3 linked regions of the Homo sapiens genome follow. The protein of the gene in region 3 purifies or fractionates together with the protein of the main gene of each other region. This does not show direct contact. Each region holds a gene or a part of one and is shown on either strand. Other genes may lie near its edges.

Region 1 (7,022 bases), on a different chromosome or scaffold from region 3:
TGGCATCTCTGCTACCTCTTGGGGTTACCCAGGGTTCGCTGTCATCCCTTTTGTGCTCTGTGTATTTGGGTGAACCATGTTCCCACAGCTTCGACTCTCACCAATATGAAGCGAGTCCCAGATTGGCATGTTAAGCTAGCTTGAGCATGCTCCTGTGTTCCAATCAGTTACCTGCAGTCTGGTGCGCTTACCCGTGCCCTTTAGGCCAAAAAAACACCCCAAAATAAATCCAAAATTGATTTTAGTTTTCACCACCCACCCCATATCCGCTTCATTGTTAGCGAAGATTTGTCCGTTTTTTTTTGGCAGTGGTTCCACCGTTCATGGAGATGTTGGAGCAGGGGTCTCACGGTGATGCCAGGCTCCCGCACTGCCCACATGCAGGCTGTCACCAGATCCTGTTGCTTCTTCATGCTGTGAAATTCCACAAAGGTCCGCTCTAGTCACGCTGGCCTTGCCTTGCTTTAGAGCCCAAAAGTGGCAAAATGGTGGCCGGTGTGCCACTTCTAGCAGTAGGCAGCAGTGTTGTTGGCCTGAACAAAGTATATACAACTTGAGTTAATATTTAGAAATCTGGAGATGCCACTTGGATGTATAGCTTCTCCTAAAAGCCAGAAGACCTGGATGAGGCAGTGCGTGGTGGCTCATACCTGTAATCCCAGCACTGTGGGAGGCTGAACCAGGCGGATCACTTGAGGTCAGGAGTTCAAGACCAGCCTGATCAACATGGTAAAACCGCGTCTCTACTAAAAATACAAAAATTAGCTGCGCCTATAATCCCAGCTACTCGGGAGGCTGAGGCAGGAGAATCGCTTGAACCCGGGAGGCAGAGGTTGCAGTGAGCTGAGATGGCGCCACTGTTCTCGAGCCTGGGTGAAAGAGTGAGACTCTGTCTCAAAACAAAAACAAAAACAAAACAAAAAAAACCTGGAATAGGAAGCTTACATTCCCATGTGGCAAACCTCAGCTGCTGCTGGGTTTCCAGTGCCTGAATACACTGGAGGTAGGTTGCTTTCTGGTTCCCCCAGACCTGTGACCCTTGCTTATAGTGGCGTTCTGGCTCCCATGGGCTTCAGAGCTAGAGACCCTAGGCTGAGACGATCATCGACAGCCTGGGAATGCCTAGTGCTTACTGCACAGTGTCGTGCACCTCATGTTGCATCCCTTCTAACTCTCTTCCATGTTATTGCTGGTGTGACTTTCCTCCTGCTGCCCCAAATCCAAGTCTTCTTGGGTCCCTCCTAATAAAATTCAATGGCTCCCTCTTGATCTGGGCTTAAATCCCTGACTCTAAAGGAGTGGCCATGTCATATCACAAGTTTGGTATCTCAAGATTGAAAGATGAGCTCTCCGCTATCTTTATACAGTGTTGTACCCGAGTTTCTGAAGATGCTTTTGAGCTTCTGTAGGGTAGTTAATACAGAGTTCTAGTGTTGATGACAGTCCTGCTGTTTACAAAGCATTTCTACAAGCCTGACTACTGCCCCACTTCCTCGCAGCCCCCCTGGGTGGAGATAGGGCAGGGTCGATTCTATATCCCAAACAGCAGTGGGGAGTCTGTAAATATGGAGGCATAGGCCATCCCAGGGAGTCCCCCACCCTTGGAACATGGGGAACCTTGTTTTACATGTGGTATCCAGAGTCATACAGTGTGTTCCTGAGGTCATTTAGACACCTTAGGGCAGAGTCTTGACCCAGAACTCAGTTCCTGTCAGCATGCAGCCAGGGAACTTTCCACAGTGCTCCATGGGCTCACCAGGCTGCTGGCCATTTGTAATGACCCAACAGAGTCAAAGCTTTCTTCACTCCCTTCCCATCTCCTTGCCTTGTCCCCTGCCTGAAACATTCTTTTCTTGCAAAACTGAACCTCCCGTAAACTGCACTGGTACCGCCCAGTGCTTTTCTGCCTTTGCTCCTTCTGTACCTCTGCCTGGAATTCCCTTTCTCCTCCTGTGTTCATTGTCTGGCTGATTTCTCCTTTTTCAAGACTCAGGCTCAAAAAGGCCTTGCTGGCAGTCACCACCCCAGCCCTCTGTGGCACATGTGCAGTGTACACACACGTCACCCCTCCCCGTGCCTACCTCAATGATGGCAGTTTTTTGTGTTGTAGCAACATGCCCTATCCAGTAGACTCTAAGCTCCAGAAAGACGTGCCTGTGTTTTAGTTTTATTTGCACCAGCGGTGGTGTGTGGCCCAAAGGCAATTAACAGATGTCTGAACTAAACCATATTCATATTTTTTGTAAGTTTACTGCATGCTTTATGGAAGAGTGTTTGTATTCCAGACTCAAAGGGGAGCTCTCTCTGCCAGACCTCCAGCCCTCATTTTGGTACTAGCAAATTTAATATATATCCTCAGACATTTTAAATTTTTGATTAACCTTGTCTTTTGAGATAAAACATTACTTAGAGAAAAGCGGAAGTCTAATACAGAAGCACTTGTGTGCCTGTGTTCACTTCAGTTATCCTCATCTGAACCTCCCTTTGGCATGGTTCTGCCCTCCTTGAGGTCTGTTGGCTGGGCTGCACTCTGCATTTCGTGGTTTTACAGGGTAGGAGAATGCATTTTGGTTTATTTCTATTAACTTTGGTGATGGTGATATATGACCTCTTGGTGACTTTTTTTTTTTTTTTGCCATGGAACTTTTTTGGCTGGTATCGTCAGTCACATTTGGTGGAAAGAGCAGGCTGGGAGAGGGTATGGGCTGCACCACCAATAGAGCGTGTAGGTTACCATCTAGAACTCAGTTTCCTTGTCTGTATAATGGGTATATTGAAATAAATGATCTAAAAGGTGTCTTATTTTTAAAACCTATAAATTCTTGGCTCAGTTTCCTTTTGATGTGGCTTTCTCATAAGTGTTAAGTCTAGATAAAATTTTTTCGTAAATGCATTATCCTGTGCTCATACACCTTAAAGTTCTTGTCTCTCACTTTTTTAAGCCTATAAAATCATTCAGCATTATATTCAGAAACAGCATCATGGGCCAACATGAAGATTTAGTTTGTATTCCCACTTAGAGCATTTATAAAAATTTTAAATAAATTAGGTCCCATATACTTGAATCTTGTCAACCTGTTCTCCACACATAAATGTGCCCATCTTCTCTTTGCAAACCATCTTTCCTCATGAGTAGATTGCACGCCTAATCTGAAAACCAATGTTGGGTTTTTAAAAAATACCCTTAGATACAGAATGGAGTCAAATGCAATAAACTACATCTTTAGGTTATCTCTTGTCTGCAAGTTCCCAATTTAAGAATACTGAGAGATTAGTATGATTTTATTTCTCTTTTGAGAAATACCACCTCCCATCCAACAGGCCAAGTCTATTTCTACAGTCAGTGAGTCTTGCCTTTATTCTGCTGTTAGATTTCTAGGTCTGGATGTAAGCCCAGTCCAGGGAAGTCGGCATCCCTTCTGGGATTCTTTCTGTGCATGAGGATGGCCACTGAGCCCAAGCAATCCTCTATTTGTAATTCCACTCGTATGTTTTGGCAAACATGTCCTAGGATTCCTCCAAAGGTTGGGGTGGACACCCTAGTTCAAGATTAGATCAGGAACACCCAGGCTTTTGCCACAGTTTGACGTAAGACATTATCCTTTGCTTCAGAAGATCATTTGAGAATTGGAATTTACATCCATTGTGCCTTTCCATTTTTCTTATTTAATTCTTTGAAGAATAATATGAGGAGACTTTAATATAAAAGAAAAAATCCCATCAAGAGTCAGAAAGGATTTCCTGTTACGGCTGCAAATCTTGGTAAATGCACTTTGTTTTTGTAAACCGTGCCCCACCCCCAACCCCTAGTGTGAACTCGTAACCTGGGGAATTTCTCTTGAGAGCATACCAAAAATAGCATCAGTGCCTTCTCTTACCCCTACCCCAACTTTCGCCCTCCATGTAGTTCCAGCAAATATAGCTATAGAAAAAATAACCACTTGTTTTTATCCTAAGTTTTTATGGGCCAAATCTTGAAGGTGGATGTGGGTATGTGAAAGAGTTTAATGCCAAATACAAAGCCCACTCGGAAATGAATAAGGTGACTACAAATGAAAATGGATGTTTCTTTCTTCCTTTGGGGAAAGTGCTATGTAAATAAAGGCAATGTTTGCTTCCTCTACTAAAATTTATTTCTGCAGTTTTTAAATAAGAAATCCACTCAAGAAGTTATTCTTACTGAGGATTTGGTCACTGTTAAGATTATAGGAACTATTAACTACTGCATTATCTTTTGCTTACAAGAGAACAAACCCAAATCAAAATAACTCGGAAACAAGGCGGAGAGCTGTTGGCTGACACTGCCCACTCAAGCATGGGAGAGGTGACTCTGGCCCTGAAGATGACTGGAACCAAAGACTGAGGACTTGGAGGCTTTCTTCTCTTTCTCCTTGCCTCTCATCTCTGCTTCTGTCTGCTGATTGTGGTTGTCCTCTCCGGGACCATGACTGTAGGTAGCTCCAGGCTTACCTCCCTACAGCCTCCTCAGTGAGGAGGAAAGAGGGGCTTTTCAGCCAGTTCCAGCCGGCGGGGGGGGTGGGGGGTGGAAATCCTAGGGAGGAATTCTGATTGGCTTAGTTTCAGTCACATGCTGTTCGCTGTACCAATGGCTGTGGGCAGAGGAGTGAGGTCCTATGATTGGCTGATGCTAAGTCACATGGTCACATGCTCGTCCCGATACCAATGGCTGTGGGCAGAGGAGTGAGGTCCTGTGATTGGCTGATGCTAGGTCACGTGGTCACATGCCCTTCCGTGTACCAATGGCTGTGGGCGGAGGAGGGAGGTTCTATGATTGGCTGAATCCCAAATCACATGGTCAATCCTTGGTTAGGAGGAAAGGGAGTGGAGAGGACCGTGCTGCCTGGCGTTCCCCAGCTGCCTTTCTTTCTGTTTTCCCCCCAACGGAATCTCTATGTGGTCTCCTAGAGCCTCGTGCCTGCCTCTCAGCTAGATGCTGATATCATTCCCACTCATGTAGTTGGGAAGGAAGGGTGTGGCAGAGATAAAGGGTCCACGGTCACGCAGTATGTGGGGGGTCACACAGCCTGTATGCCAAAGTGGCACACCCTGTGAATATGTAGGGTCGCACAGCCTTTATGTGTCAGTGCCAGAGCCTGGACCCGGGTCTGTAGATGTGTGAACCGTGAGCTGATACCATGGATATTCAAAGATTTACATCCCATCAATGTTTATACCTTCTTGAGAAGAAATTTGTGTCAAAGCACACTCCTCCTTTCAAGACTACCTCCTCGCCGTGCTGCGTGATAGCCCTAGTATCACAACCAAAACACATGATACAGAAAGAGGCCAGTATCTGTGTGGTACGTTTGAATCATGGTTTTATGCCTTTGGCCCCCTAGTTCCTTCCTCAGACACTTGTTTTTTTCTGGGACTGAAATCTAAAATTAGTACTGACCTTTGGATTGAGAAGGTAGAGAGATTTACACAAGAGTCCAAGCGAATAACTTAAGCTGAGCTGGATAAAACTCAGCAGAATCACAGAACAAGTGTGCCATGACTTTTCAAACATGCCTAATTGAACTCTGTTTGCGATTTAACTTCTTTTTCAAAGGTTTATAGTTACCTTTATTTCAAAATTTGTCATTTTAAAATATGTGTTTCCTCCTTTTCCTCCACTGTATAGTAATTAAGAGTGTGGAGGATTTGGAGGCCAGCGGGCTTTGGTTTGAATCTAGAGGCTACATATTGGAGGGTATGAGCCAAAGCCAAATTTCTAAACATCTCCAAGCCCATCCGTGAGTTGGGCCTAAAGGTGTTTAGGCTTAAGGGCCACCCCTGAAGTGTTGTGAGGATGAAGCGAAGAGTATATCTTAGGCGCTAAGCACAGTGGCAGGAATGGAGCTGACTTTCGGGACACGAGGTGGCTGTGGTTGTGGCATTGGGTAATATTTGTCACAGAAGTACAGGTGAGCACTTCTCTGAGACTCATGTCTTCCTCGTGTCTTTGGCCTGATGAATGAGTGACTTGCTCTGTGTCTTTGCATGCTTTGTTTCCAGACACCTTTCCTGCTGCACTCTCAGTGGGCAGTACTCCCCAATGATCACCTGGTCATCTGTCCTGCCCGCAGGCTTCAGGCTCTTGTGCGTTGGCCATGAAGCAAAGGAAGGCTGTTGCATGAAATAACCTCCTTCTGACTCCACCCTTGCATTTGTGAGATGTAAACAGCAGTGTTACCAAGAGGTCTTCCAGGGAACACGTTGCAGGTAGCCCTGTCATGCTGGCTGCTTTTTTCCATTAGGTTAGTTGTGAATAACGAATAAATGTCTATGCAGGGCCAGACATGTCTATGCTGGCTCACGCCTGTAATCCCAGCAGTTTGGGAGGCTGAGGTGGGCAGATCACTTGAGGCTCGGAATTCAAAAACAGCCTGAACATAGTGAAACCCTGTCTCTACTAAAAATGCAAAAAATTAGCTGGGCATGGTGACGCACGCCCGTAATCCCAGCTACTTGGGAGGCTGAGGCATGAGAATCACTTGAACCCCGGAGGCGGAAGTTGCAGTAAGCAGAATTGTGCCACTGCACTCCAGCCTGGGTAACAGAGGGAGGCTCTGTCTCAAAATAAAACAAAACAAAAAATGTCTATACAGTAGGAAAAATAATCTATTTGGTTTAATATTTAGGTCTCTGCAAGGGTAGCATCCAGAGGCTTCTCTTTTCATTCTTGTTTTTCTGACTGTGAAAAAATCATTCTACTGTGTCCAGTGATGTCCAGATACCAAGAAATAACTATTTTAAACATATGGTGAATATTGTTAAAGCACATGGTGATGGTCATTTAATTATGATTTGATTCCGTCAATATGCAAAAGAGTTCTAAGAATGTTGGGTTAACCTTAGCAAGCATTCCCAGATAGGAAATGTGTTTTCTGCTACCATTGATAGGATTTTTTTAAGGATTTTACTGGCAGTTATCCACTTTGGACTTCATACAGCAGTCTGAGTATATGCCCACACCTGAGTTGTTGCTCTAACAGTGAGATTAGGGGATGCCAGGGAGA
Region 2 (7,523 bases), on a different chromosome or scaffold from region 3:
TGCCTTCTATACTAATTCTTTGGATACCACAATTATAGTTTATTGAGTCTTCCGTTCCCTGCGCTGCCTATCTCTGGGGTCCTTTTGTTATGGTGGCTGGTGTTTGCTTTATTTTATTTAGGTCTCTCTTTTGTACCTAGACTTTCCAAACATTCCTAACAACCCTTGGATGTCAGTACATAGTTAAGAGGAAAACACAAACAATGCTGGAAGTTCTGTTTACATGGAGGAAGTTCTGTTTACATGGACAGGACATGTCAGCTGGGAGCTTCACTGCAGTGTGCTCAAGGGATCAGCAGCTTTTTTGTCCGGGAACCAGCAAATGGGAGAACTCTTCGGTGTGGCTATCGGTGGTGTTCTGGAAGGAGATGGGGTGGAAGCAGATGGGGGTCGGGGGGCTTCTACTGGATCTGTAATCCCCTCACGTCCCCACTGCCTCCCCCACAGTGCCTGCAGGACCCTGAGTTTGAGCATTTTCATTATCACTTCGCAATAATGCATAAACACTGAACAATTAATCATAAAAAAGATTGGAGAGATCCAAATCCTAAAAGGAAAGAAAAAATAAATCCACATTTAAAGTTTACCACTCAAGATACTCCAAATATCAACAAATTATAAACAATCTAGTGAGATTTTTCTATCGAGGGCTTTCTGTTATCCTTTCAGCAAACGTGTGAGTAACAAGGATGCCTGTTTCACAGTCACGTTGCAAACTCAAGACCTGTCAATGGCTTTTTAAGGACCTACTTCTTTAGCTTCAGTAAATAAGATAGCTAAGTGTCCTTCATATATATATGTGAATACACATGTATATATGTACATAGACAAATATTTATGCAAAATTAATTGTTTCAAAATTTAAAAACTATACCATTTAAAAATAAAAAATGATATTTAATCACAGACATAAAAACTGGATATTAAAGTCTTATTAATGAACAATTTTATGTATTTTTTAAACAAGCCTAACAAATCTATCCTGGCATCACTTTTTTTTTCCTGTAGCATCACCAGTAACTGAGCAATGTTCACAATTGATTTTATTCAACTAATCAAGTCTTAATTTTTTTTTAGGTGTCACTATTGAATTGTGCTTCTCAACTTCTATTAAGGATGCCTTTATTTCCTACTAAATTTAACCATTTAAAGACTGGTTTAATGGAAACTTGGACTTCCTGCTTTGTCCCTCTGTTTCCTTGTGCAGTGTGTATGTGTGTGTGTGTGTGTGTTGTGTGTGTATGTGTTTAATATATCTGAGCAGCCTAACATATAAATGGGAGTTAAACATTATTTTCAGGCTAGGCGCAGTGGCTCACATCTGTAATCCCAGCACTTTGGGAGGCCAAGGCGGGCAGATCACGAGGTCAGGAGTTTGAGACCAGCCTGGCCAGCATGGTGAAACCCCATTGCTACTAAAAATACAAAAATTAGCCAGGTATGGAGCCCGGGAGGTGGAGGTTGCAGTCAGCCGAAATCGCACCACTGCACTCCAGCCTGGCAAAAAAAAAAAAAAAAAAAATTTTCTTTCTTTGGATGCCTTGGCTTAATCCCAAGTGCAGTAAGCCTGGAAATGTAAGGTGTGTGGTCTTCCCTGGGACCGTACAACATCTGCTTGGGTGCCCTTATTATTACATATGTGGAAAAGAATGTTGGTTCTATTCATGCTAATTTCACTCTACTGTTACTGGTCCGTGTTAACTGTTTCATGCTGAATTGTAATAAAATGCATTGGAATTGGCCTTAACTTAAAATACTTAGTTTACATAGTCGAGTATGACCAAAGTACTTTTCTCTTTGGTGGCACATCACAATGGATGCAATTACTCAGATACGGTCCTGAAATGAGAACAAACGCCATCTATGCTGATAACAGCAGTCACTGGTGTTAATCCCAGCACACATAAAAGCCCCAGCAATACAAGGCCGGCCCAGGACCTTAACTAGAAGGTCACTGAACACATCAGATCTCATCGCATCAGGCCTGACCCCCACCAGAAAGGATGCAGGCAGCTGCAGGGCTGTCATTAGGCACGAGAGCATCCCAGAAAGCAAAAGTGCCCAAAAAATGGACTCAGATGCCCCCTCGCATCTGAGTATTCCTGACAGCATGTGAACATTAATTATTAATTTTCTGTACCTCAGTTTTCCGAAGCCAATCTTTAGGACAAAAAAAAAAAAAAAAAAAAGGAAGAAAATAACTTAAATGCCAATTTGTAGTTAAAGTTTCCTCTTTGCCTTGAAGACATCAAAGCCTGTAATAGTTTGCCTGTAGGGAGTTTAATTCAAACACAGAGCGGTAAGGAGATCCGGGCTGGTCCACACGATCGTCTCCACAGGTCTGGGCGACCTGAAAGTGCTGCGGATTGGCCAAGCCCAGCACGGCCAGTCCAGTGAACACACGCAGGGGGCCCGGATGGCACCGTTTGGCGCCGAACCCCTCGGCCTCTCTCCGCCTCCCGCCCGGCTCCTAACACCCGGCGCCCCAAGACTGAGCACGCGTCCTCCGGGTCGCGGAGCGGGCGAGGGGTCACCGAGGCCGCGGGGCCGACCGGGGTCACCTGTGGCCCGGGAGGCTCTGCGCCGCCCCCATCCCGCGCCGGCCGCCTCTTCCGTGGGCGCTGGGCCTGGGCGCCCGGGGTCCTCGGGTCCGCGGCGTCACCGGCCGGGCTCGCGGCCACGCACGACTCACCCGGCCGCGTCGCCGTTCTCTGCCGCTGCGAGGCTCCGGAAGGGAACCCAAGCCGGACGCTCGCCCGGGCCCCCGCCCCGCTGGGACTGCTGGGGTCACAGCCCCGCGCGGCCACGCCCCATTCTCGGGGCTCCAGCGTCCCCGCGCGCCGTCGACCCACGCGCGTTCCCGGCCCCGCGCGACCCCCACCCTGCCCCCCTCCCCGCTCGCGCCCCCGGCTTTCCCGACTTTGGAGCGACAAACCCAAGCCAGCGTGTCCGAGCGGCTCCCAAGCCAGACACGTACTCCAGAGCGGGGAGCGAGCGAGCAGAACGGCGGGCAGAGGCGCCGGAGCCGCCCCGGACCTCAAATACTCGCGGGGAGGCGGGCGGAGTCCCGGGTCTCGAGCTACCGTCGCCCGTCCGGAGCGCGAAGGGAGAGGCGGGGCGGGACGTGCGGGTCAACCCCACCCGCCAGCCGGAGGGGCCGCGAGTCCTGCCCGGAGGCCTTGACTTTGACCACAGTACAGGGCCCCACCAGCGTGTTTATGGTGCCTCTGTGGAGACTGAATGCTGGCCTGTTTCCAGAAAAGGGCCGGCTCCTGATACACGGCCATCCACTGGGGAGTGCAGAACACGCATTTAAAAATGAGCAGACTAGATACAGGTCACAAAGACTTTGCTGATGAAACAGCTTGCGGCAAAGAAGCCAGCCAGGGGCGGGCGCGGGGCTCACGCCAGTAATCCCAACACTGGGAGGCCGAGGCAGGCGGATCACTGGAGGTCAGGAGTTCCAGACCAGCCTGGCCAACATGGCAAAACCCCGTCTCTACTAAAAATACAAAAATTAGCCGAGTGTAATGGCGCGTGCCTGTAATCTCAGTTGCTGGGGAAGCTGAGGCAGGAGAATCACTTGAACCCGGGAGGCAGAGGCTGCAGTGAGCCGAGATGGCGCCACCGCACTCCAGTCTGGTCCGTCTCAAAAAAAAAAAAAAAAAAAAAAAAAAAAAAAGTAGACTAAATAGCTTTTGCAAAGCAAAAGGAATAGTCAAGCAGAGTAAACAGACAACCTACAGAGTGGGAGAAAATCTTCACAATCTATACATCCGACAAAGCAGTAATATCCAGAATCTACAAGAAACTCAAACAAATTAGCAAGAAAAAAAAATCCCATCAAAAAGTGGGCTGGCATGAATAGACAGTTCTCAAAAGAGGATATGCAAATGGCCAACAAACAAGAAAAAATGCTCAACATCACTAATGATTAGGGAAATGCAAATCAAAACCACAATGTGATACCACCTTACTCCCGCAAGAGTGGCCTTAATCAAAAAATCAAAAACTCAAAAAATAATAGATGTTGGCGTGGATTTGGTGAAGAGGGAACACCTCTACACTGCTGATGGATAGTACAACCACTGTGGAAAATAGTATGGCGATTCCTTAAATAACTAAAAATAGAACTACCATTTGATCCAGCAATCCCACTACTGGGTATCTACGCAGAGGAAAATAAGTCATTATACAAAAAAGATACTTGCACACGCATGTTAATAGCAGCACAATTCGTAATTGCAAAAACATGAAACCAACCCAAATGCCCATCAATCAAAGAGTGGATAAAGAAACTGTGGTATGCGTATACGGTGGAATGCTACTCAGCCATAAAAAGGAATGAATTAATGGCATTGGCAACCTGGATGGGATTGGAGACTGTTGTTCTAAGTGAAGTAACTCAGGAATGGAAAACCAAACATTGTATGTTCTCACTCATAAGTAGGACCTAAACTATGAGGATACAAAGGCATAAGAATGATACAATGGACTTTGGGGACTTGGGGGAAAAGGGTGGGAAGGGAGTGAGGGATAAAAGGCTACAAATTTGAGTTCAGTGTATACTGCTAAGGTGATAGATGCACCAGAATCTCACAAATCACCACTAAAGAACTTACTTGGCAGGGCGCAGTGGCTCATGCCCGTAATCTCAGCACTTTGGGAGGCCAAGGCAGGCAGATCATGAGGTCAGGAGTTCGAGACCAGCCTGGCCAGCATGGTGAAACCCCCGTCTCTACTAAAAATATAAAAAAATTAGGCATGGTGGCACACATCTGTAGTGCCAGCTACTGAGGAGGCTGAGGCAGGAGAATTGCTTGAATCTAGCAGGCGGAGGTTGGTTGCAGTGAGCTGAGATCATGCCACTGCACCCCAGCCTGGGCAACAGAGCAAGACCCCATCTCAGGAAAAAAAAAAAAAAGCTTGCCATGTAACCAAATACCACGTGTTCTCCAAAAAACTATGGAAATAAAAAAACTAAAATATATATTAAATTTAAAAATAAATGTATATAAATGAGCAGAGCCCACATCATTGAGCCGTGTGTTCAAGGACTTCCAGTTCTCTCCAGGCATAGGAATTAGACCCCAGGGTACTGACAGGTTAGCCAAGTAAGTATGAAAACTCCATCTGCCATCTCAGACAGAGCAGTCTTGGAAAACAGAAACATCTAGCATAAATGGAAGTAGGGAAGATACTAGCCAGGTGTTTTACATGAGTTCAATTTTGAGAACTCAAGCTGTTTTACTCCCTCTGTGCTTACCCTAAGGCAGAGTTTCTCAACTGCGACACTGTTGACCGCATGAACCCGATAACTTGTGGTTGTGGGGGCTGTCCTGCCATCACACATGTTTCACAGAATCTCTGGAGGAGATTCACCAAGTGGATGCCAGGAGCAAACCACACGCCCCTCCCTAGTTGTGGCTTAATTAGTCTTAAGTGATATAAATTGCGAATATTTCCCCCAGCTTGTCATCTGTTTTCTGACATTGCTTCTGGTGATTTTGGCATACACTCTTTTAATGTAGTCAACTTTAATGATTTTTCCTTTATTGTTTCTGAGTCGTAGTTAGAAAAACTTTCTCTATTCACAAGGAGCAATCTCTTTTTTTTTAAAAAAAAGAATAATCTCTAGATTATAGAGTTCACTAATGTTTTCTTCTAGTATTTGCACAGTTTTATTTTTTATATTTAGATTGCTGATCCCTTTAAAGTTTATTCTGGTGTATGGGAAATATAGATCCAATTTTAACTCGCTTTCAAGTGACTTTCAGTTTTTCCACCTCTGTTTATTGAAAAACCATTTTCACTAATGTCTTCACATGCCACCTATGTTATATATCAAATAGCTGCATATACTTGGGTCTGATTCTGAACTTTCTAAACTTTCTATTTGGTTCTGTTGGTCAGATTCTTTCAGTTATAGAGGTTTTCTCTTATGATTCAATATCTCGTACAGCGCATTCTCCTTACTGCTCTTCTGCTTCAGATTTTCCTGGCTCTCCTTGTTGCTTTTTCTCCCATACAAACTTTTTTTTTTTTTTTTGAGCTGGAGTCCCTCTCTGTCACCCAGGCTGGAGTGCAGTGGTGCGATCTTGGCTCACTGAAACCTCCATATCCTGAGTTCAAGCGATTCTCATGCCTCAGCCTCCCAAGTAGCTGGTATTACAGGCGCATGCCACCACACCCAGCTAATTTTTGTATTCTTAGTAGAGATGAGGGTTCACCATGTTGGCCAGGCTGGTCTCAAACTCCTGAACTCATGATCCACCCTCCTCAGCCTCCCAAAGTGCTGGGATTACAGGTGTCAGCCACCGCACCCGGCCTCACCCATACAAATTTAAGAGTCAACTTGTCTAGCTCTAAAGAAAAAAATCTTGTTGGCAGGGCATGGTGGCTTACACCTGTAGTCTCAGTACTTTGAGAGGCCAAGGCAGGCAGATCACTTGGTCAGGAGTTCAAGACCAGCCTGGCCAACATGGTGAAACCCCATCTCTACTAAGAATACAAAAATTAGCTGGACCTGGTGGCGTGTGCCTATAATCCCAGCTGCTTGGGAGGCTGAAGCAGGAGAATTGCTTGAACCTGGGAGGCAGAGGTTACAGTGAGCTGAGATGGTGCCATTATACTCCAGCCTGGATGATGGAGCGAGACCCTGTCTCAAAAAAATATATATATAATAATTAAAAAAATAAAATTAAACTGTAGTCAAACAGGCCAGATGCAGTGGCTCACGCCTATAATCCCAGGACTTTGGGAGGCAGAGGTGAGTGGATCACCAGAGCGAGACTCTGTCTCAAAAACATAAAATAAAATAAAAATAAAATAAATGAAAATAAAAATAAATCTTGTTGGTAATCTATTAGAAACATATTGAATTTACATATTACCCTGTTATAAACCAACATTTGTACTTTGATTTAGTTGTTCTAGCCAAGAACATGCTGGGTCTTTCTGTTCCTTCAAATAATTTTTTTCCTTTTTCCTTTAAAGTTTTGTTCATGTAAGATTTGCACATTTCTTGTTTAGTTTATTTCTAGTTATTTTATCTCTTTGTTGATATTGTATGTAAGCAAGTTTTTTCCATTATATTTTCCAACTAGCTTTTGTTTGTGGATGAGAAAATTGTTTTTATGTATTAACTTTATAACCTGCTGCCTTACTGAAATTTTTTACTATTTGTATTTTTTATTGATTCTTTTAAGTCATCTATAGCTATACTACATCACCTATAAATAGAAATAGTTGTACTTCTTTCTCCAATGTTCATCTCTCTAATCGTTTTCTCTTGTTTGATTGCATTGGCTGATACCTTCAGTGGAGCAAATTGCCTGACCACTTGTGGTGTTAGTATCTACAAAATGAAAGTGTGAGCCCATATAGCTTCACCAAAGGGCAAGTCATTCCTAACCTCAATGGCTTCTTCTCAAAATAGGTTTACTGGGCAGGGAGACCTAGGAAGGGGTTCTGTAGTCTGGCATTCTCTGCCATCCCACCTGGATTTAAATAAGATTGAAGAA
Region 3 (7,680 bases):
AACTAATTAAAATGAAGTAAAACTAAATTAAAAATTCAGTTCTTAAGTCACACCAGCCATATTTCAAATGTTCAATAGCCTGAAGGGGCTAGTGGATAATTGGACAGCACAGATATAGGATATTTCATATATACATATATGGAATATTCTACTGGATGACCCTCAGAATTTAGAGGTTGTATGTCTGGGTCCTTCTTAATTCTGAGAGGTCAGCTCAAATGTCTCCTCTTCAGAAAGGCCTTCCCTGACCACCTGGTCTAATGTTGACTCTCCTGGTCCCGACTCCTCCCCCATTACATTCTTCCAGTTGGTCTTCATCAGAACAATGATTGCTATTCATTTCTCTTCACATTTGTATGTATTCGTTTTTAAAAATCTCTCCACTTTGACTGTAAGCTCCATTGACAACAGGCACCTTAACTGCTTTATTCAGTACCATATTCCCAGGACCTAACACAGCGCCTGGCACACAATGGGGGCTCAATAAATAAATGCTGTGTGTGCCAGGCACTGTGTCTGGCATTGAAAGCACAGCAGGGGTCCGTGGGACAGGGAGAATCCAATCCTGAACATGCATGCCATTTTGTGACTGTGTGACCTTATGCAAATCACCAGCCTCAGTTTCCCCAGCTGTCAAGTAGAAAAAGTAATAGTTCATCTCTCATTGCGCAGTTGAAGAATTCAAGATGATCCTGCATTTCAAACCGTGCAGCACAGCAGGTGGCATGGAGAGCACTCAGTCAGTGGGAAATGTTATTATTAATTATTAGCTACAACAGGAGGTCCCTCTGCCTCCCTAGCTAGTTTCCCCAACTACAGGGCAAGCAGTTGGATTAGCTCAGTGGTTTGCAGTTAGGGACAGAAGTTGTCGGTGAGCACAGGATCATTTTAGATGGTAGAGAGATGAGATTTAAGTAACGTTAAATCGCACACTCAGACGCTGAACCAGCATCCAGTTCTCTTTTAAACCTGATTTTGTCAAGGATAAAGTCTCAGGATGGTGCTAATATGGTTTTAACACCTCCCTAATCCTCACTGAGCTCACTTTTCAAAGCCAGGAGGACACAGAAGCCTCATCAGGCCACCTAACATTTATTACACTGAACCATCTGCAAAAGTTGTTTTAGGAAGGTCAAAAAGGGTCAAGTATCAGCAATTTCAGGTGGTCCAACCCAATAAACATATTATTTTCTTTTCATTGTGCAGGATTTATTTCCTTCCTTACCTTCTATTTATGACAAAGAATTCTATTCTCTATTCAGGACAGTAATATAAAGTTGAACATGCTTTTGTTTGAGTGAAAAAAGAAGAAAAAAAGCTAACTTTAAGCAAATGATTAGGTCAAAAGTTATAAAAATGGTTTTCAGAGCCTCAAGTCCAGGATATGGACAGGGAAAACAACCTTGATTAGGATTCTGACTCAGGCATCGCCGGTGTCATTGGAGCAGGAGCCTTCTGTCTTTGAGTCCTAGGTTTCTCTGCCATGAAATTGGAGTAATTACAATGCACCTACCTCGCCAGGTTGTTGAGGACTCCACAAGGCGTAGCGTGTGGGTCTCCTAGCCTAGGGTGTGGCACTCAGGAGTGGCACGGGCATGAATCCAGGGAGTGTCGCCAGAGGAGAAAAGCCACCCCACCTTCAGGCCAAGGATGGTGCCAGGTGCCAGGCACCCACAGATCCCTCCTTTTTCAGGTCTTGGCTCAAGGGTCAAGCCCTTTGGGAAGGCCTCTGGTCGGGAAGCCGCCATTACATCTCTAGGCCCCTGGCTTGGCTCCTTGAAGTCTTCACCTCATGTCAAGATAATTATTAACTAATTATTTGGATAATTGTTTGAATAACATCTGCGTCTGTCCCCGCTAGACTCCAGGTGCTGAGAGCAGGGACTGTGTCTCTGCTTGTACAGCACCCAGCACAGTGGCCGGTGTTTAATAGCTGTTTGTTGAATGAATAAATGATTCATGAACGGGGTTTCCAGAGAACCTGCCTACAACGGCAGGGAAAGATGGGAAAGATCCATAAGGATCTTAAGGACTACCAATTTGGGGTGAGGTCACATAGGTTTGGGGTCAACCCAAGGATTAAAATAACAATCTAGAAGGTTCTGGAAGGGGCTGAGTATGAAGACAGAATACTAGAGGCCGGGCTCGGTGGCTCATGCCTGTAATCCTGGCACTTTGGGAGGCTGACGCGGGCTACTTGAAGTTAGAAGTTCGAGACCAGCCTAACCAACATGGCGAAACCCCGTCTCTGCTGAAAATACAAAAATTAGTTGGGCGTGGTGGCGGGCGCCTGTAATCCCAGCTACTCGGGAGGCTGAGGCAGGAGAATCGCTTCAACCCGGGAGGCGGAGGTTTCAGTAAGCCAAGATCGTGCCACTGCCTTCCAGCCTGGGAGACAGAGCAAGGTTCCATCTCAAAAAAAAAAAAAAAAAAAAAAAGGAATACTACTAATAAAGTAATAACGGCTAAGTGGCTAACTTTCAAGTCCCTTCTACCTGCGACATACTGAAGGCTCGACGCATTACCTCGTTTCAATATTCACAGTGACCTTCTCTGGTAAGCACTTATAGATTAAGCCCATTTTCCAGATGAAAACAATTTAGGCACAAAGCAGCTGCTAGGCTACTGGCTCAAAGCGGCAGCGTCAGGACGCGAACCCATGTCTTTCAGCTTTCCAGAGAGGACAGGAAGCCTTGAACGCGGGAGGGGCTGCTGCGAGGGTATTTTGGGAGGTGAAGGGTCTGGGGTCGGAGGGCCAACCTCAGCCGGGAAACCAGGTCACCCAGGGACAAGCAGGAAGAGCTCTGAGCTGTCCCCACTGGACCCGGCCCCGAGTGGGCGGGGGGCGGAGCTCGCGGCTCCCACGCCCCCTCCCCCTCCGGCCTGACCCCTCCTACCATTGTCCCGAATGGCCGCCGCGCCTCCACCCCCGCGCATTCTTACCTCCTGACAAGGCCAAGGTCAGGGAGGCGATCACTAGGGCCAGGGGCCACATGGCTCCGGGATCGGGAGGGGAGGGCAGGGCGGGCGGGGCCTGAGGAGAAGGTGAAGGGGGTGTTGAGGGCGTGCCCGGAACCTCCGCGTCTGAAACCTCTCTGCTCCTGAATGTCTCCTCGCCTCATTCACTCTTGACAGCCCTGACCCTGGAATCTGCCCCCCGCCTCCAATTCCATCCTTGGTGGGGGTGCAGTGGCGAGGTGGGAGGAACAGTGTGCAACCTCCTGGGGCTCCGGCGTGCAGCCCCTCACCCCAGGAAGCCGTCCCTCCTCCCCTGCCCTCTGGCGAGCTGGGTGGTCGGTGCACTCTCGCCCTTTTCCTCCAGAGTCTGCCTTCCATTCTACCCCTCTGGGTCTGTCCACACGCTTGGTATTAGCCCAAGTTCTTATCTGTCCGCGCCCTTCGCCTCTCTCCGTCTCTGCAGGTTTCTCTCTAGATCTGAGACTCTAGCTTCACTCTCCCTCTCCCTGACTCAGCTGCCCTTCTGCTTTCCCCATCCTTCCTATCCCCTCTTCTCTCCCCTCCCTGCCCTCCTCCGCTCCCCGCCCCCGCCCCAGGCAGACCCTACCTGAGTGAGGGGCCCACGAGGAGCGTCAGCCGCCAGCTGTCTAGAACTTCAGCCCCGAACCATGGCTTTTAACCCCTGAACTCCCTCCCCCAGCTCACTCAGCATTTCCTGGTCCCTGGCCTCCCCCTCTCCACCCCCAGTGGCTCAGCGGGATGTCTCCAGGCACCCCCGACCTGGGCTTGGCCCTCTGCTTGGGGCGGAGCTTCCAGGACGTGCTGGGACCTAGGTCTGACCCCGCCCAAGGCAGAGTTGAACCCACTGTGAACTTTCAGGCCTCAGGACCCAAAAAAGGGTAAGGGGAAAGCCCATTTCCTTCCCCCTACCCCGCTGAGTTCCATGCCCATCCCTAACTTCAACCCATTCTGCACCCAGTTTTCTAACCTCTTCTCCAACCCCATGCATAATTCTTAATAGGCAGTCAGCCCCCAGATGGCCGTGTTCTATCAGATTCCCACCTCCCTATCCATCCCTAACCATACCAAGTACTCCAGCCTGTTCCTCAACCCCAGTCCCATCTCCAACCTCATCTCAGGTTTAGCTCTCAACACATCCAGGTTCCAATTCCCAGTCTCATCTCAACCCTTTTTCTTTTGAAAGACACAAGGACACCCACAATTATCCCATCATCCTGCCTCCCTGCTCCCGCCAACCACCGGACACAAGAAGGAAATCATCAGCTGGGTGGATAGAAAATCAGCTCCCTCGGACTTGGATGGGGGCAGAGATGCGACCTGAGAAAGCAACATTTTCCAGAAATGGCCTTTTAGGAGCAGGGCCAGAGGGGGTGAGGGAGTCCACGGGGACCTAGGTGGAGAGGAAAAAGCAGGAGCCGGAAAGCTTTGAAGACGTGGATTGGGGGTGGGGGAGAGGAAGGAGGAAGGGGTGGTGTTTTGAGAATGAGTAGGTGTCTCCAGGAACTATGACTGGGTGGAGCCCTGAGTTAATCCTAGGGGGTGGAGGGGACAGGATTAGGGATTAAGGACTGAGGTGGGGTCAGAATTTGGAAGAAAGCCAGGGACGTGGACCAGATGAAGTTTGGAAAGAGTGAGAGAGTGGAGGTGTCACAATGAGGATAAAGAATAGAGATGGATGGGGCGAGGGCTCACATGGAAACTTGTACAGTCCTTATTGATGGAGTTCAGATTTGGATGTGGAGATCAAATCTAGTGTCAAAGGGTAACTTTTAAAACATGGTCTTACCATGACTCTCTGACATATATGAAATGAACATGTGTCAAAGATTGTATCTTGACTCATTAATAAATGGCAGAGCCAGTAAGATGTTACAAAGAGCCATATGCACAGAGACAACGAGGAATGCTGAAATGAATTTACAAATAGATGCAAAACTGGCTATTCCACACTGGGAGGAGGAGGGAAATCCATTGTACTTCCACCTGGCAAAATTCATGTAAACATTTATGGACAAGAATTATTTGCATTGCTCTCAGATACCTACAATTTAGAGTCATAAAGTGGCTCAAAGACAGGAAAGGGTACAGAGACCTCATAAAATCAGATAACCCATCTAACTTTGCATTGGCGACACCTCAGTGTCCAATGTTGGGTCCATTTCAAAGTATTTTGCTAAGAAGAAAAATATGGCTTAATATAGGAAATCAGTAGAGTCTATGGTTAAGGATGGGCCTGATGACAACATTAGGAATGCAATGAGTTTGGGGAGGTGAATGAAAATTGGATGAGGATGGGTATAGAGTTGGAGGTGGTAGTTGAGCTGGTTTTGGGATAGGATTAGATTGTAAGATGGGAGGTATCTAGGGATAAGTTGGTGTTGGGGTACTGTTGGGTTGGGGCTGAAGATGGAACCAAGATTGAGGTTTTGGATGGGGAAATGTTAAGATGTGGTTGAGCTGGGGTAGTGGGTTGACATGGGTGATGAGGACTGGCCATGAGGTTGAGTGTCTATGATGCAGTAGGTTTTGGTGGGGGTGAGCTGGGTCATACCCCACCTCTCAAGGTGAAAGAAAGGTCACTGTCTTTCTCCACCCTGGACTTCTCCCACCTCACAGGGCGGGGTCTGAGTTCACTTTTTGAGTGGAATTGTGTTCAGGTGGTGTGGCTGGAGGTAGGATGCCAGGTTAAGTGCGGCAACCAGCTTATGTGGGAAATCGGGGTACTTGTACCCTCCTGTGACCTGGGTCCATGCTTCCAGAGAAGCCTTTCTCACTTGGGAAAAGCTGGAGCCTGGAGTGAGGGTGGTTGGCCTTGTTATTTGCTGAGGGGTGAGTGCCAGGTCAAATTGATGTTAGGGGTTATGATTGGCCGAACGCGGGTTGGGTAGCTCTGGTTGAAGTGAGGTCATGGACCCACTGAGGGCTGGGCACCTTCCACCCCCTCACTTGATGAACAAGCCCACGGCTGAAAGTCACACACAAACTGGACCAAATCCAAGTGCGCTTCTGTCACAGGTGCAGGTCTTTCCTCCACCACAGAGAACCGGGCTGGAGAAAGAAGAAGAAAGGACCCGAAAAAGAGATGGTGTTCCTAGTGGTTCTGACCTCAGACTCTGGAGCTAGACTGCCTGAGTTCAGATGATGTGACTGCTCTGTGCCTCAGCATCCCCATTTGTAAAATGGCACAATCAATAGCACTTGCCTTATGGAGAAGGGTTAACTGGATTAATACCCAAAAATGCTTCGAAGAGAGTGTGGCATGGACCAAGGGCCACAATGCTCCTGTTAAATAAGTAAAGCTTAAGATGGAGGCATCTGACGGTTCCAGGAGGCCCCTCCCTATCTTGGCTTCAAAATGGGATTCTTTGTCAAGCAGGAACTGGAACTTCTGGTTGGAAGTGCTAGCTGGGATGAGAAAGTAGGCCCCACACCCAGGCCCAGAGGAGGGGCCCCAACGCAAACATGAAGGGAGGGGAAGACTGAGAGATACAAAGGGCTAAATACACAGAGACAGAAAGATGGGGCAGGTGGGAGAGGACAGAAAGAAAATTCAGAGGACAGAGGCACAGAGATAGAAAGAGAGAGATGCCCAGTGAGAAGCAGACTCTTGGTGAGAAAGAGGCACAGAGAGTTGAGAAACATGGATTCTTCTTTAGAGCTGGATCCGTGTTATTCAGGATGTGGCTCCAGTCATCATGCATCCCAGGCAGCAATAACACATCGCTTTCATCCATCAGAATAGCAAAAATTAGAAAGGTCGGTCTTGCCACCTACCTGCGTGCCCACATCCTCTGTCTCCTCTCCCATTTCTCTAGATGAACAGTCTGCACCTGCAGCTAAGATAGATGCCTCCACTGGTGCTGGTATCCTGTCCTCTCTTGCCTTCTGGAGGGCATTGCTCCAGCCAGCAGTTCTCTGTTCTCTTTCCTGCAACATGTTTTCCTTCTTCTCCAAGGAGCAGCCCCATTAGCATGCAAATATACTACAGTTTCTCCCATCTCTCGTTAAAATTTGAAAACCAACCAACAAAAATTTCTCCCCACTCTCATGTTCTCCTTCAGCTCCTGGCCCATTTTCTGCTCTGTACAACTGCAATCCTTCCCTAAAAAGTTGGCTAAGCTCACTGCCTGCAATTCCTGTCCTCCCGTCCTCCCTGGAGCCCACACTATGAAGGCTTTCTCTCCCATTGCTGTACCAACCATGCCCCTGTTTAGGGCAACAGTGACCTCCACGGTACTGAATCCAAGGGCCGTCTCTTCAGGTTCATCTTACTGGAGTTATCAGCAGCATTTAACAAGTGGACTACTCCCTGTTTCTTTCCTTGGCTTCTGGGACACTATGCTCTCCTGGTTTTCCTCATCACTCACTGGTTGATTCTCATCCGTGTCTGGAGGTGGTTTCTTCCTGTCTCCCCAGTCTCTACATGGTGGAGCACCTCAGGCTTCGGTCCTTGGCCTTCTTCTCTCCTCTGTCTATATTCACTCCCTCGGTGATCTCATCTGGTCTCGTGGCTTTAAATACCATCTACATGTTGACGACTCCCAAATTTATGTCTCCAGCCAGGTCTGACTCTCAAACTCTCCACTTAACATCCAGCTGCCTACTCAACATCTCCATGTTCAAAACCAACTTCTGTTCTCTGCCCTTCCCATGTTCCAAACATACTTCTCTTGTGGGTCTTGGGCTTCTCAGCGGATGTTC

The links.
Region 1: the proteins of KLK13 (region 3) and SERPINE2 purify together in Homo sapiens (affinity purification with mass spectrometry; 3 studies listed by BioGRID and IntAct, with this or other methods). This does not show direct contact.
Region 2: the proteins of KLK13 (region 3) and SERPINB6 purify together in Homo sapiens (affinity purification with mass spectrometry; 2 studies listed by BioGRID and IntAct, with this or other methods). This does not show direct contact.

The regions. Positions count from the first base shown.
Region 1 is NC_000002.12:224,029,275-224,036,296, reverse strand, and holds part of SERPINE2 (glia-derived nexin isoform b precursor), read left to right. Parts: intron 1-4,818; exon of another isoform or gene 4,819-5,321; intron 5,322-6,089; exon of another isoform or gene 6,090-6,225; intron 6,226-7,022. UniProt on the Homo sapiens protein: Serine protease inhibitor with activity toward thrombin, trypsin, and urokinase. Promotes neurite extension by inhibiting thrombin. Binds heparin.
Region 2 is NC_000006.12:2,968,556-2,976,078, forward strand, and holds the start of SERPINB6 (serpin B6), read right to left. Parts: upstream 3,013-7,523; 5' UTR 2,978-3,012; exon of another isoform or gene 2,594-2,977; coding exon of another isoform or gene 2,562-2,593; exon of another isoform or gene 2,250-2,561; coding exon of another isoform or gene 2,203-2,249; intron 2,169-2,202; exon of another isoform or gene 257-2,168; coding exon of another isoform or gene 224-256; intron 1-223.
Region 3 is NC_000019.10:51,062,073-51,069,752, forward strand, and holds the start of KLK13 (kallikrein-13 isoform 1 precursor), read right to left. Parts: upstream 3,021-7,680; 5' UTR 2,996-3,020; coding exon 2,944-2,995; intron 2,848-2,943; exon of another isoform or gene 2,526-2,847; intron 1,790-2,525; exon of another isoform or gene 1,514-1,789; intron 1-1,513.